Homo sapiens: one gene and its partners. The protein of the gene in region 2 interacts with the protein of the main gene of each other region in a pairwise test. Each region holds a gene or a part of one and is shown on either strand. Other genes may lie near its edges.

Region 1 (3,500 bases), on a different chromosome or scaffold from region 2:
GCTTTTGGGCTTGTATTCCGGCACAGGAAAAAAAAAAAAAAAAAAAAGAGGAGCTGTAAAGACCGTGCCCTACTCCACAGTGAGTTCCTAAACATCAAATAGAAAAGAGAGCTAGATTTCTGTGGCCTGCAGCCAAGAAAACAAAGGGGAGCACAGGAGCTGGTCTGGGCTTGAAATAAGTACCTGGAGTTAAGCAGCAGAGAAGGCCCTCTGAGCTCTTGGCTAACATACATTCTCTTTTACTAGCAAGTGCTTCCAAATATAGTAAATAGAATATGGAGAAAGAACACTCTTTTAAACTGCCTTACACTAAAAAAATGTCTTTAAGCCCATGTAAATCTATGCACAACTCTAACTTCCAAAAAATGTAAACTAAATTCTTCCCAATGATATATTCCCTCTATGAACCACCAGTCATGGAGAACAAACTGTTACGTTCTGACTCTATAATGTAGCTAAACACAGGAAAAGAACAAAAAGTTCATGAGAAAGAAGAAAGCATATTGCTTATTTTTCAAAACATTTTAAATAGAAGCTAATTTTAGAAATGCTGTCTGTTTTTTTTAAATGTACACTAAGTTCCAAACAGAGAAAAAACAACTATTAAAAAAATATTAGGCTGGACATGGTGGCTCACGCCTGTAATCCCAGCACTTTGAGAGGCCAAGGTGGGCGGATCACCTGAGGTCAGGAGTTCGAGACCAGCCTGGCCAATATGGTGAAACCCCATCTCTACTAAATATACAAAATTAGCCAGGTGTGGTGGTGCATGCCTGTAATCCCAGCTACTCGGGAGGATGAGGCAGGAGAATCACTTGAGCCCGGGAGGCGGAGGTTGTGGTGAGCTGAGATTGCGCCATTGCACTCCAGCCCGGGCAACAAGAGTGAAATTCTGTCACCAAAAAAAAAAAAAAATTAATGGGAATGATCCCATTATTATTTTCTTTAAATCTATGATAGGAAAGATTTGACTGGATATTCAATAATAAGAAAATATTTTGTCCATTTTTAAAGACATGATGATATTGTGGTTATGTTTAAATAAAAGATCTTATCTTGACAAATATAAAGACAAAACTATTTAATATATGATGTTCAGGATTTCTTTAAAATTATCCAGCAGGAGAGGGGGTTGGAGGTCAGAAAATATGTATGAGGATTACAAACAAGAGTGGTTATGTGTCGGTAACTGTTAAAACTGCAAGACGGATATTTAGGAATTTATTATACTAGTCCTTTTTCTTGAATATGTTTAAAATTTTCCATTAAAAAAAATTAATCACGCCGGGAGTGGTGGCTTGTGTCCGTAACCCCAGCACTTTGTGAGGCTGAGGTGGGTGGATCACTTGAAGTTAGGAGCACGAGATCAGCCTGACCAACATGGTGAAACCCTGTCTCTACTAAAAATACAAAAATAAGCTGGGCATGGTGACGGTCACCTGTAATCCCAGCTACTTGGGAGACTGAGGCAGGAGAATCACTTGAACCTGGGAGGCAGAGGTTGCAGTGAGCCAAGATCGTGCCACTGCACTCCAGCCTCGGTGACAGAGTGAGACTCTGTATCAAAAAAAAAAAAAAATTAATCAAATGATGTAAGACGTATTAAATGAAATGAAAGTAGAAACTCCGGCAGTCTCCACTACTGCTGACTCATAAGTATAATTTCTACAAAGATAAAATAGGTAAAGCCCCCAATTACTGATAGTACAATGATATGCCCACCTTTGTCAGCCTCAGAAGGTAAAACAGTGGGGTTTCACCAGGTTTTCTTCTACCCATCTGGCAAGGATGCACCAAGCCCCACTAACAGAAAGCTCAGCACATGGTTTGAATTTCCCTGGATGACACACACTGGTATACAGAATGCTTAAAACATGAACATTCCTAGTCATTGCCAACACTTCCCTACACTCCTTCCTTGTGAACAGAGGTTACTTATTTGCAATTCAAACTCTGTTATTGAGGCCTTGGGAAAAGTTACCTTCACAAAGCTGTTTACAGCCATGATGGCCATGTCTGGCTGACTCTTGGCGTAGTTCATCAAGTAGAGATACACAAGCTTCTTTAGTTCCAGATTGTCAGTCTGCATACAGTTCACTACGTCTGGAAAGAGAGAACTGAGAAGAGAGGGTAAAAGAGAAAAGGAAAGTAAGCAGGTGTTGGTGCCAAGCTGTTGGACAGAACATGAATAGCCTTAACTAACAGTGATTTGATGCAAGAACAAATGTCCCCACAGTGGTAACTGTCACAGAAATGAATTACTAAAGAAACTGGCTGGGCACGGTGGCTCACGCCTATAATCCCAGCACTCTGGGAGGCCAAGGCAGGCGGATCACCTGAGGTCGGGAGTTTGAGACTAGCCTGACCAACATGGAGAAACCCCGTCTCTACTAAAAATACAAAAAATTAGCCAGGCATGGTGGTGCATGTCTGTAATCCCAGCTACTCAGGAGGCTGAGACAGGAGAATCGTTTGAACCTGGGAGGCAGAGTTTGCGGTGAGCTGAGATCACACCATTGCACTCCAGCCTGGGCAACAAGAGCGAGACTCCTGTGTCTAAAAAAAAAAGGAAAAAAAAAAAGAAAAGAAAAGAGAAAAGAAAAGAAAAGAAACTGTAGGCCAGACATGGTGGCTCAGGTATGCAATCTCAGAACTTTGGGAGGCTGGGGTGTAAGGATTCACTTGAGACCAGGTGTTCAAGGCCAGCCTGGACAACATGGCGAGATCCTCTCTACAAAAATTTGTTTTAAAAAGCTAGGTGTGGTGGTGCACACCTGTAGTCTTAGCTACTCAGAAGGCTGAAGCAGGAGGTCGAGACTGCAGTGAGCCATGATCACGTCACTGCACTCTAGCCTGGATGACAGAGTGAGACCTTGTCCCCATCCAAAAAAAACAAGAAAAAAATTGTAGTGCTGTTCTCAACAAGGTCTCTATAGTTTTAGAAAAAGCTTTTTATTATGAAAAAATGTTAATCCTAGTGCTGGGATTACATGCATAAGCCACTGTGCCCAGCTTCATCTATAATATTTTAATGTGTATCTTAAGAATCCTTTTTTTTCTTTTTGAGACAGAGTCTCACTCTGTCGCCCAGGCTGGAGTTCAGTGGCACCATCTTTGCTTCCTGCAACCACTGCCTCCCCAGTTCAAGCAATTCTAATGTGTCAGCCTCCTAAGTAGCTGAGATTACAGGCGTGCGCCACCACTCCCGGCTAATTTTTATATTTTTAGTAGAGATGGGGTTTCACCATGTTAGCCAGGCTAGTCCCGAACTCCTGACCTCAGGTGATCCACCTGCCTTGGCCTCCCAAAGTTCTGGGATTACAGATGTGAGCCACCACGCACAGGCAAGTGTCTTTTTTTTTTTCCACTACCTTTATCACATTCAAAAAAACACACAAAAACAAAAACAAAAAAGCCAGGCCCAGTGGCTCACGTCTGTAATCCAAGCACTTTGCGAGGCCATGGTGGGAGGACTGCTTGAGCCTAGGAGTGTGAGACCA
Region 2 (3,500 bases):
CGGAATCACAATGGCCGCATAAGTGAAAACTCACATTTTTGCTTAGGGGAAAAAAAATGGGAAAATTCAATTGGAACATTCTGCTTTACCACACAGAAGTTCTGAAATCCACATGTCAAAACATCAAATGCGGAGTGACCACTAATCAAAAAGACAAAACAAAACAACAACAACAACAACAACAACAAACAGCTTGAGATGTTGAGCCTGAAGGTTGAGAAATTAAGGAACCATTCATTTTTACAAAACTAAAGTCCACACAATGGTGCCAAGTAGTTCAAACTGCAGCTGATACAGCACCTGAGTGTCAGACCTAGAATGACTGGGGCCCCCAGGTTTTTACAAAGTACTCATCCTCCTCTAGAGTCCCAAGAACCAGATGTATATCTGGGTACTCTCTTTAGTTACCATGGGAGGAGTGTAGCAAGCACATGACATTAGCCATGGCCCCCGGTGTTCTGAGACAGCTTTCAGGAGGGTGTCCTTCTAGGGAACCAACCACATACCAGTTCCCATATCTGAAAATGCATTACCACTGCTCACTAATGTTGACCACTAAGCCATTTACCCCAAACCAAAGCAAACACATGCTGAAGACCGCTAAGGCAACAGCAGCAGCGCAAAAGGGCTCAGTGCAAGCGCTCTCAGCTCAGCTGACCTGCTTCAAGGTGAACTGAAGTTGCAGATCACCAGTTCCGGCTCTAATCTGACGCCCGCCCCCAGATCACGCTGTGGCGACCAAGTAACCCTACACACACTGACCTTTCAGGGCTCAGGGAAGTGACTTTTTTTTATTATATGGCACAGTTTGGCACAGTTATGTCTTTAGTCTTTGGGGTACTTTTATACTGTCCAAGAGTAGTATATTTTTTTCCTCTTTTCCTTTTTTTTTTTTTTTTAAAAAAAAAAAAAACAGATGGCCAAACCAGGACATATACTAAAAAAAAAAAAAGGAAGGTTACTTACCTGAGCCCTAACATCCCAGCTACCATGGAATCCTGTTGGAGCTGGTCTACAGAAGCAAGGTGTATTCTGGGGAGTCACATGTCACATCAAAGCAGGAACTGGTGAGTCTGTATTTTTATGGAGCCTAAAACAAAGAAAATTGTAAGTTGAAAGCCCCCATTGAGCTGCACGACCTTTTTCCCAGGGCTATTTGGGACATTTTGAAGATAAACACATAGACAAAGTACTAGGCTATTTCCCAGCTTACCTAGCTAGAAACAAAGGATAAGCTGCAAATTACTGGCACGTAACACACAGTGCTAAAATAAAGGAAAGATTCATGCTTGTTAGAATCAACACTATCACAAGCCTTGTCACCTCTAGGGGACACTTCGACACTACAAAAGCATACCATGAGTGGCGATTTCTGGCAAGTATTTCTTCTACCACGGCACACAGAAATTCTCAGGGAAGAATACATGTTCAAGAGAATACGCAACATCAAAATACCATCCCTGAAAGAACACATGGAACCTAGAGGCAGTCTCCCTTCTTTTTCAAGCAGCTGAATGAAGTTGCAATAAGCTGCTGTAACAACATCACATAAAGGGGCTTTAATCCTGAGAGAAAAAATCAGCACCAAGGGAAACCAAGTGCTCTGGGAGACCCAAAGCCATCATCCAAAACATGCAAGTCTATTTCAGGGCAATCAGTTTTAAGCCTCTCAGATCAGTCAATCTCGATGTTCAACAAACTCAGTTATTAGTTTGATAGTTTCTCTTTTTCTTTTGAACACATGTTCAAAAAAGGACTTTTGTCAGTACCTTTTTTGTCATTAAGATAACCATCATTTCCTAGTTAAAGCCTAAACTGCCCCATATGAATTAGCTAATTTCTGATACTATGCTGGCCCAAGAGTAGCACTTTTATAAGCTAAAAACGAAAGCTCAGAGCATACAACTTAGAGACTATTCACACAATTACTCATGTAATCAAACCCAGAAGAAGGGCAACACCAACCAAGTCTTTTACTGGTCTGTTGCTGCTCTACAGCTACCAGGATGGTACCTAAAATTATCTTTTGAGGTTCAGTGAGGCCTCATAATTCCCTTAAACAGTCAAGTCATAGAATACTTTGAAATCCCAGAAGTCAAGTTAATAGTATTACTCGGCTAGCTATATAATAAAAACCAAACTGGTATCCTGGCTAGGAGGCCCTGGAAAAGTCACAACTTCTCAGGGACACAAGTTTTTTTTGTTTGTAAACTGATGGTGCTGGACTAAGAATCCTTCTAGTTCTTAAAGTTTAAGATAATTAACTTAAGATTTCATGTCAAAAAGAAAAGAGCCAGAGGCTGGGTGCGGTGGCTCACGCCTGTAATCCCTGCACTTTGGGAGGCTGAAGCGGGTGGATCACGAGGTCAGGAGTTCAAGACCAGCGTGGCCAAGATGGTGAAACCCCGTCTCGACTAAAAAAAAAAAAAAAAAAAAAAAAAAATACAAAAATTAGCCAGGCGTGGTGGCAGGTGCCTGTAATCCCAGCTACTTGGGAGGCTGAGGCAGAGAACTGCTTGAGCCCGGGAGGCAGAGGTTGCAGTGAGCTGAGATCGTGCCACTGCACTCCAGCATGGGTGACAGAGTGAGACTGTCTCAAAAAAAAAAAAAAAAAAAGAAAGAAAGAAAAGAGAAAATGAGAGCAGTTTATGAAATCTAAAAAAGAAAGTTAATATATATATAAAACACCCCTAGCTCTTGGGCTAGGAAGACAAGTGCATCCTTACTAAGGCTTGGTCCTGTCAACTTCAGAGGCAATAATGAGAGCCCAGACTACAGTGTCTACAGTAACTGCAAAACAGCCACACAGCACAGCGGGAACACATTCACACGCCAGGAGACCCAGCATACATGTGCTTGAAGAAGTTATAAGACTCAGGCTTTATTCTCTAACGAAATGGTCATTCCCCCTTTGATGTGGGGGTGGGGGTGGGGATGCCCTGCCCACCCCCCAATTCCGGCTCCCACTCAGTTATCCCACATACCATACATACCATCAAAGTATTTAAGCAATGGCATGCAAAGCAAGCTTTCGACAGGTTTCTTGCAAGAGAAAGGCAGAAGAGAACAGGTAAAAGCAGAAGAGCACACAGGTAAAAGCAGAAGAGCACAACTTCTACTTAAGCCCAAAGAAGAGGGACCTGTTCACATCTTGTCCTACCCGGAATGATGCACACGCACAGGGGCTTGCCGGGACAGCAGTAGTTTCACTGGAAAGGGCTGGTATGGAGGCACCGAGGACAAGGTCCTTCCATCGCAGCGGTGATAATGCTCTACCCAAGAAAAAAAGATTGCGTCTGCCAGCCACGCAAGACTGGTCTGCAAGGATGTCACCATAGCAGAGGGCAGGGAAAACAAGCAGGTGTCCTGCCACACTCTTTGGGACTGGCCAGTCTAGGAGTGTGCTTTACCCCACGCACTGAAAACACTGGTTACTAGAAATATCAAACATTTCCTGTGATTCTCTCCTCCAAGATAACTCGGGCAGCTTGAGAACAAGC
Region 3 (4,086 bases), on a different chromosome or scaffold from region 2:
AGCCTCCCAAGAAGCTGGAATCACAGGTGCGAGCCACCCCACACAACTAAATTTGGAATTATGAATATGGCTGAGGTCCAGAAATATTTAAATTTGGCATGATGACTAAGAGTTTGTTATAGGAGCTCAATCATTTGATAAATATTGAACATTTCCTATGTGTCAGATTGTTTTTCCCACTAGGGATGCAGAGGAGAACAAGACAGAATAGGTTCTTGTCCTCATAGAGTGTGGGAGACAGGCAGAAGACATATAATTTCAGGTAGGTATAAGTATCATAAAGAAAAAATAAAGCAAAACAAGAGAGTGCTGGGAAAGGCCAGGGAGCAGAGAGGATGACAGAGCTGTCTTAGGGTGTTCAAGACCTCTTTGAAAAGCTGATATTTGAGCAGAAGACCACAGCAAGGAAAAGTGGCAGAGACTGCTAGCTGCCTACGCATGAAATGATGGGGGAAGGAGCAATACAGAAGGCATGTAACATTTGAGAGTCTATTAGGCATCCCAAGGGAGGTGCTGCGGAGGCGGATGCATGGAGGCGGATGCGGAGGCGGATGCATGGAGGCGGATGCATGGAGGCAGATGGATGCACACGTCTAGAGTTTAAAAGGAGATCTGAGGCGGAGATACGAACTTGGGAGCTGTTAGTCCAGTTCCAGGTTCCAATTCAACGTACTTTTATCAGAGCTCACTGTGCGCCAGGGACTTGCTAGGAGATAAATGGGGTTTATCTCACCGGAGATAAATGTGGTTGCACAGCAGATGGACACACCAGCCAATGTGGTAAATAAACCCTTGGGTCCAGCTACGTTCTGCGCGCTCTCTGCCAGCACAGAGGAGCAGCGAGTCAGGGTACGGAGCGGGTAGCGTTGGGGAAGAGGTGGCCGCGAAGCGAGACAGGCCAGCGGAACGGAAAACGGAAGCACGAGACGGGGGCGTGACGCACCGGGCGCATCACAAAGAACGGCGAGAGGGCGGTGGCGCCGGGGGCACGGCTGGGCGGCTCCGCCCAGAAGAGGGCCGAGAGGCGGGGCGGTGCCCCCACCGCAGGCCCGCGGCGCCCTCTGCAGGCCACAGGCAGCGACTCACCAGTTGCCTCATCTTTCCTCTCCTCCCTCTTGGGGCTTTCCTCAGGCCACATTTTTTGTGTGTCTGGGCAGTCTCTCAGCCTCCGACTCCCGTCCCTTTCTTCCACTTCCAGGCCGGGCGTGTTAGTGTCTTCGCGGGAAAACTGCCAATAAAGTTTTTCTTCTTCTCGCTCCCAAGATCCCCGCCTCCCCTTAAGCACCGCGAGATCTGACGGCGCGGCTACCATGGCGGCGGCATTTGAAGCCTCGGGAGCCTTAGCAGCAGTGGCGACTGCTATGCCGGCTGAGCATGTGGCCGTGCAGGTCCCGGCCCCAGAGCCAACACCCGGGCCTGTGAGGATCCTGCGGACCGCTCAGGATCTCAGCAGCCCGCGGACCCGCACGGGGGATGTGCTGTTGGCGGAGCCGGCCGACTTCGAGTCACTGCTGCTTTCGCGGCCGGTGCTGGAGGGGCTGCGGGCGGCCGGCTTCGAGAGGCCCTCGCCGGTGCAGCTCAAGGCCATCCCGTTGGGGCGCTGCGGGCTCGGTGAGAGCGGGGGCCCGGGATAGGTCGGGGGGTGGGGTGGGAGAAGGGGGACCGACGGGCGGCGGCGGCCAGGCCCGCGCCGCAGCTCAGGAAGAGCCCTCGGTCGGCCCCCGGAGCAGGGCCCTGCCGGGGGCTAGGCGCTACGCTCAGTTAACTTATTTGTAAAACTAACGTGCACTATTGAACTTGAGGATAGTTAAGACCTTTTTTTAAGCACTGACAAATGGTTCTAAGTTTGAGAAGATAAACGGTAAACGTTCAGGGACTAGGCGTGTTCTCATACGTTTTTGAGAATCAACTAAAAATGAAGGTGCCAACTAGGGGAATCTCAGGAGACCCTTCTAGTTCTCTGATTCCATGTTAGCCCCTAAGTTGCTTCAGTGAGTACTGGCTAGTGATAATTGTTTTTTTCCTTCGCAGATTTAATTGTTCAAGCTAAATCTGGCACCGGGAAAACCTGTGTGTTCTCCACCATAGCTTTGGACTCTCTTGTTCTTGAAAACTTAAGTACCCAGGTGAGTTAGCTGAGAGGACCAGAGGAGGATGTGTTTTGTGGACTTTACCACAGGTCAGATGAAATACCAGTAGCTCCTCAGAGCTGGAAGTGAATTTGATGAATGATTGAGTTAAGTGGTGGTGGTGGCGAAATTTGGAATTTTCTATGCGTACCTTATTTAAATAGAATAAAGCTACCATATATGTCAATTTTGTCACTACTTGGTAATACAGACAGGGATTCTTCTTTTACTTACTGACTAGATTAATGTGAGACTTAACATTTGACTTGATTCATGGTAATGTAGTGCTCTGGCTATTGTTGGTAACTGCAGAGTTTGTTTTTTTTTTTTGAGACGGTGTCGCTTTGTCACCTAGGCTGGAGTGCAGTGGCGGATCATTGCTCACTGCAACCTTGAACTTCTGGGCTCCAGTGATCCTCCCACCCATCTTCCTAAGTATTTGGGACTACAGGTGTGTGCCACCACACCTGGCTAGTTCTTGTATTTTTTGTAGAGATGGGGTCTCCAGTGTTGCACAGACCAGCCTTGAACTCCTGGGTTCAAGCAATCCTCCCACCTTTGCCTCCCAAAGTACTGGGATTACAGGCATGAGCCACCACAGCCGGTATGCAGGTGGTTCTTAAAGCTCTGTAAATGTATCATATTGATCTCCCATCTTCCAGGTTGTCTTAGAGTGTTTCTAAGATTGCCTTACCCAAATTAGCAGGAAATTTGAGTTTGGGGATCATTTCTCCAACAAAGGTTTGTTGAGTCCGTATTACGTATAAACAGTGTGCCAGGCATTGGGGATTCAAAGATGAATTAGATGTGATTCTCATAGCCTTACTTGGTAGTTTAGTTGTTATGGCAGACTGTATTTCAAGTTCTCAGGCATTGGTATATCTGATGATGAATCTTCAACAGTGGTTTTTAACCCAGATATCCATGTTCATCACCTGGGAAGCTTTTTGAGTCCATCTTATGTCTACCAAATCCTAGGTGATGTTGCACATTGGAAATCCTCCTACTTCCCAAGAACCTGAGTTAGTCTAATTGTAGACTAAGATGTATTTGAGATTTTGGCTTCTGACAATTTGGCAGCAGATAAAATGCTGAAATCCTGGAAAAGTTTCATCAACTCATTTTTTTTTGAGACCGAGTCTCACTCTGTTGCCCAGGCTGGAGTCAGTGGCACAATCTTGGCTCACTGCAACCTCTGCCTCCCAGGTTCAAGTGATTCTCCTGCCTCAGCCTCCCGAGTAGCTGGGATTACAAGTGTGCACACCACACGCCCGGCTAATTTTTTTGTATTTTTAGTAGAGACGGTGTTTCGCCATGTCGGCCAGGCTGGTCTCAAACTCCTGACCTCAGGTAATCCACCTGCCTCAGCCTCCCAACATGCTGGGATCACAAGTGTGAGCCACCATGCCCGGCAAATTCATATTTTTAATTTCAGATCTTTGGATTATGAAAATTACATTATTCTCTGTGTGTGTATCAAAGTAATACATATTCATTTTTAGAAATAGGGAAAATTCAGAAAAATTAGGACGTACCAGAAAACAAAATCTGTAATCTTACTACCTAGAGAGAAACTGCTATTAACAGTTTTGGCATGTTTTCTCCTAGTCCTTTTTTTTTTTTTTTTTTTAAATCAATTTTTTTTTCTTGTAGTTAAGAGCACAAAGTTTTGTTTTCTCCTCCTCCAGTAGTTACATTGCAAAGTTTTTACCATGACTCTCAAGGTCTTTTGTGATCTAGTCCCTGGAGGTAGATCTCTGACCTCCTTTACTTTCCCCTGAATTCTGTCATGTGGGCCTTCTTTTTCTTCCTCAAATACACCAAGAACACTGCCATCTTATGGCCTTTCCATTTGCTGTTTCCTCTTGGTGAAAACGCTTCCCCAGGGGTCATATAGCCAGCTCTACTCTATGCCATTCACGTAGGTCTCTGCTCAAAGTACCTCCTTTGAGGAGGT
Region 4 (3,500 bases), on a different chromosome or scaffold from region 2:
CTCCACAAACAAGAAACACCCTCCCTTCCACCTGAGCCGCTCCCACAAGGTCACCGTCTTCATGCAGAGTTTCCAACAGACCGAGTTGGCCGCCACAGACAAGGCCTTGTGCAGGACCGCCCTCCAGACCTCCTTACAGATGGCAACTGGAGACCAGGGCCTCAAAACCACATTTCCACACTGGCTGAAGCTGCTGCAACTGCTGCCTGCTTCCAAAATCAGCCTTCAGGCGGCACAGACCCCGCCACAGGAAGCCAGAGTCTCCATGCCCACACACCACTGCTGGAACTTGAACCCTACCTTGGCCAAGTCATCCGGCAAACTCTGGCCTGCAGGCTCTGTTCACCCCACGGTGGGGCAGACCAGAGACTTCCAGGGGCCTCTCTGAACCCCGTGTTTTGGGTGCCCCAAGGTTTTCATTCTGAATACAAAACCAACCGAGGCAAAGTGAGAAAACAACTGTTTCTTTTTTTCTTTTTCTTTTTTTTTTTTTTTTTTTTTGAGACGGAGACTCGTTCTGTCACCCAGGCTGGAGTGCAGTGGCGCCATCTCGGCTCACTGCAAGCTCCGCCTCCCGGGTTCACGCTATTGTCCTGCCTCAGCCTCCTAAGTAGCTGGGACTACACACGCCCACCACCACACCAGGCTAATTTTTTGCATTTTTTTTTTTAGTAGAGATGGGGTTTCACCGTGTTAGCCAGGATGGTCTCCATCTTCTGACCTCATGATCTGCCCATCTCGGCCTCCCAGAGTGCTGGGATTACAGGCAGGAGCCACCGCGCCCAGCTGACAACTGTTTCCTACATCTGAAAATGTCACTGTCAAATCAGAGCACTTGAGTAGAAGTTTATCATGGAGTGGAGGGACCCCCAACACACATGCCTGACGCCTGGGCTCACACAGGGGGTCCTACTGCTGTGCCTGAGTCACCAAAGACCTGCAGCTCTTCACTGGAGAAAAGGAATGTCTTGTGTTTGTTTAAGAGTCACAGAGTATTTTTCTTAGGAAGGGAACACACAGTTATTTCAGACCGTGCCCCGCTTTGTTGTCAGTTTCCAAACAGGAACACACCAGTCTCTGGTCTTCCTGGCCTGGAGGGGAGAAAACCAGCCTCAGGCACTTGCAGGACACCCCCGCTCCATGACGTCAGCACGTTCCAGGCACCCACAGGTGCCTTGGGCTTCAGCCCCTCCTAGGAAATGAGGAGGTGCCCAGACCCCACTGCCAGGAAGGAGCAGCCTGACTGAAAACACAGATCGCCACGTGGCCATGGGTCAGCTTGTGTGTGTTCTCACACCCACCAGAAATAAGCCAAGTTTCTGGGCTGGGTGCGGTGGCTCATGCCTGTAATCCCAGCACATTGGGAGGCCGAGATGGTAGCTACCTGAGGTCAGGAGTTTGAGACTACCTGGACAACATGGGGAACCCAGGAGGTGGAGGTTGCAGTGAGTTGAGATCACTCCACTGCACTCCAGTTTGGGCAACAGAGAAAGACTCTGTCAAAAAGGAAGGGGAGGGGAGGGGAGAGGAGGGGAGGGGAGGGCAGGGCAGGGGAGGGCAGGGGAGGGCAGGGGAGGGGAGGGGAGGAGAGGGCAGGGGAGGGCAGGGGAGGGGAGGGCAGGGGAGGGGAGGGCAGGGGAGGGGAGGGCAGGGGAGGGGGTTTCCAAGTTTCTTATGTTTTTACTGAAGTCCTTCACAAGTTTTCTGTTTGCTGCCATTCTAACAATAACTGTGCTTTCAGGCCGGGTGTGGTGGCTCACACCTATAATCCTTATAATCCCAGCACTTTGGGAGGTCAAGGCGGGCACCTGAGGTCAGGAGTTTGAGGCCAGCCTGGACAACATGGTGACCTGTCTCTACTAAAAATACAAAAATTAGCCTGGCATGGTGGCACACGCCTGTAATCCCAGCTACTCAGGAGGCTGAGGCACAAGAATGGCTTGAACCCAGGAGGCGGAGGTTGCAATGAGCCGAGATTGCACCACTGCACTCCAGTCTAGGTGACAGAGCAAGACCCCGTCTCAAAAACAAAACAAACAAATAACCACTCTGCTTTCAGGTATATGGAGATGATGTCCCAGGTATGTGACCAAGGCTGAAAAGACTACAAGTAACAGGTGCCAATGGTCCCAGGGAAAATCCCTTTCTGGAGACTGGACCCACCCTGGCATCTGCCACTTGGAAACAAGGTTGCCTGCCCTGGTTGACCAGATGTCCCCAGATCGCCGAAGGCCCCACACATAAAACATAAAATAAGCTGATAAAACATGATCACAAAAGGGCTCTGAAGGTGGCACAGACACTATTTGAAATGCAACTGGCTTTCAGCAGTTTTCTAAGTAGACAGCAGTCAGGCGTGGGAGACTGCACCATAAATGCTACGAGAACAGGATATGGGGGAGGGAAACGCCTTGCTTCTTTCAGCTGGCCCTGCAGCTATAGGATAAGGAGCACAGGCAGGGCCGGGCCTCGGGCAGAGGCTGAACTGTGGCCGGACAGCAGCCTGCTGGGAGTCCCTGCCCAACGCAGGCCACAAGCCCATCTGACAGGTGTGGCTCTTCACCTGGCCTTCCGAGGCAGCTTCTACCTCAGCTGTAATTTCTCCCACCTCCAGCACAGCCCGAAGGCCTCTGAGAGCAGAGCGAGCCAGTGCGTCCCTCCCCAGCTCACAGAGCAGACGTTCACACAGCGGGCTGAACCCCGGGAGAGCCTCGGGGAAGCCGGAGGCCCCCAGCGTGGCACCACCCGCCCTGGGCTGTGCCCCTCGGAGCAGCTTACCAGAACATGTCCTGAGATGGATGCCGCGTTCGCCACAGACGTGGTGAAGACATTGTCTGCAGCAGCCCCCACGTTGGCCACTGTCACTGTGGTCACCTCTGCAACAGAAGGAGCCTCATTTAACAAGCAACAAAAGCCAGAATGGACAAAGCGAACAGCCTCGCTCAGGTGCTTCAAACAAAGTGACTCCCCCTCAGGTGTGTGCCCTTGTAACCAGGAAGATCTTAACACTTCCATGAACACGCTCGACCTACATTTCTATTCCATTGTCTAAGTCATTCGGCTCTTCCAGGAAAAAGAGAGGAAATCTATTCTTCCCCAGTAAAGCCTTTTACGTGCAGTAAAAAATGCATACAACAAACCCGCCACCCCAGCCAGCCCCAGCTCTATCAAACCACCACGGGGCTTCTATCTCCTTCTGCGGCACAGCTGTGGGTTCTGCTGGTCAGGTGTGCCCTATGCCTACGAGGAGCTCTCGGCCTCCCCGCAGGTGAGGACACCTCCTGGACCCACTCTTGTAGCTCCATTCCTGCCTCTCCTCCACCGCAGGGGTCAGGCCACCATCGTCAGGTGACCTCGGCCCCATGCTCACAGCCATTGCCCTTGGTCTCTGACCCCTTCCTCCTAAAAAGTACATCTAACCTGCCTATGTCCCTTGGTGCCACCCCACCGCACCCCCTACAACATGGAACTCAGCCCCCTGGCATGCAGACAGGCCCTTC

What was found. Proteins that work in one complex are often made in the same cells at the same time.
Region 1: the proteins of MECP2 (region 2) and AP2B1 interact in binary tests that used the Homo sapiens proteins (3 or more experiments, as listed by UniProt).
Region 3: the proteins of MECP2 (region 2) and DDX20 interact in binary tests that used the Homo sapiens proteins (3 or more experiments, as listed by UniProt).
Region 4: the proteins of MECP2 (region 2) and DEAF1 interact in binary tests that used the Homo sapiens proteins (3 or more experiments, as listed by UniProt).

Annotation. Positions count from the first base shown.
Region 1 is NC_000017.11:35,604,322-35,607,821, reverse strand, and holds part of AP2B1 (AP-2 complex subunit beta), read right to left. Parts: intron 2,118-3,500; coding exon 1,982-2,117; intron 1-1,981. UniProt on the Homo sapiens protein: Component of the adaptor protein complex 2 (AP-2). Adaptor protein complexes function in protein transport via transport vesicles in different membrane traffic pathways.
Region 2 is NC_000023.11:154,091,218-154,094,717, forward strand, and holds part of MECP2 (methyl-CpG-binding protein 2), read right to left. Parts: exon of another isoform or gene 3,161-3,500; intron 2,333-3,160; exon of another isoform or gene 993-2,332; coding exon of another isoform or gene 967-992; intron 1-966. UniProt on the Homo sapiens protein: Chromosomal protein that binds to methylated DNA. It can bind specifically to a single methyl-CpG pair. It is not influenced by sequences flanking the methyl-CpGs.
Region 3 is NC_000001.11:111,754,615-111,758,700, forward strand, and holds the start of DDX20 (probable ATP-dependent RNA helicase DDX20), read left to right. Parts: upstream 1-1,286; 5' UTR 1,287-1,310; coding exon 1,311-1,611; intron 1,612-2,031; coding exon 2,032-2,126; intron 2,127-4,086.
Region 4 is NC_000011.10:688,723-692,222, forward strand, and holds part of DEAF1 (deformed epidermal autoregulatory factor 1 homolog), read right to left. Parts: intron 2,877-3,500; coding exon 2,779-2,876; intron 1-2,778. UniProt on the Homo sapiens protein: Transcription factor that binds to sequence with multiple copies of 5'-TTC[CG]G-3' present in its own promoter and that of the HNRPA2B1 gene. Down-regulates transcription of these genes.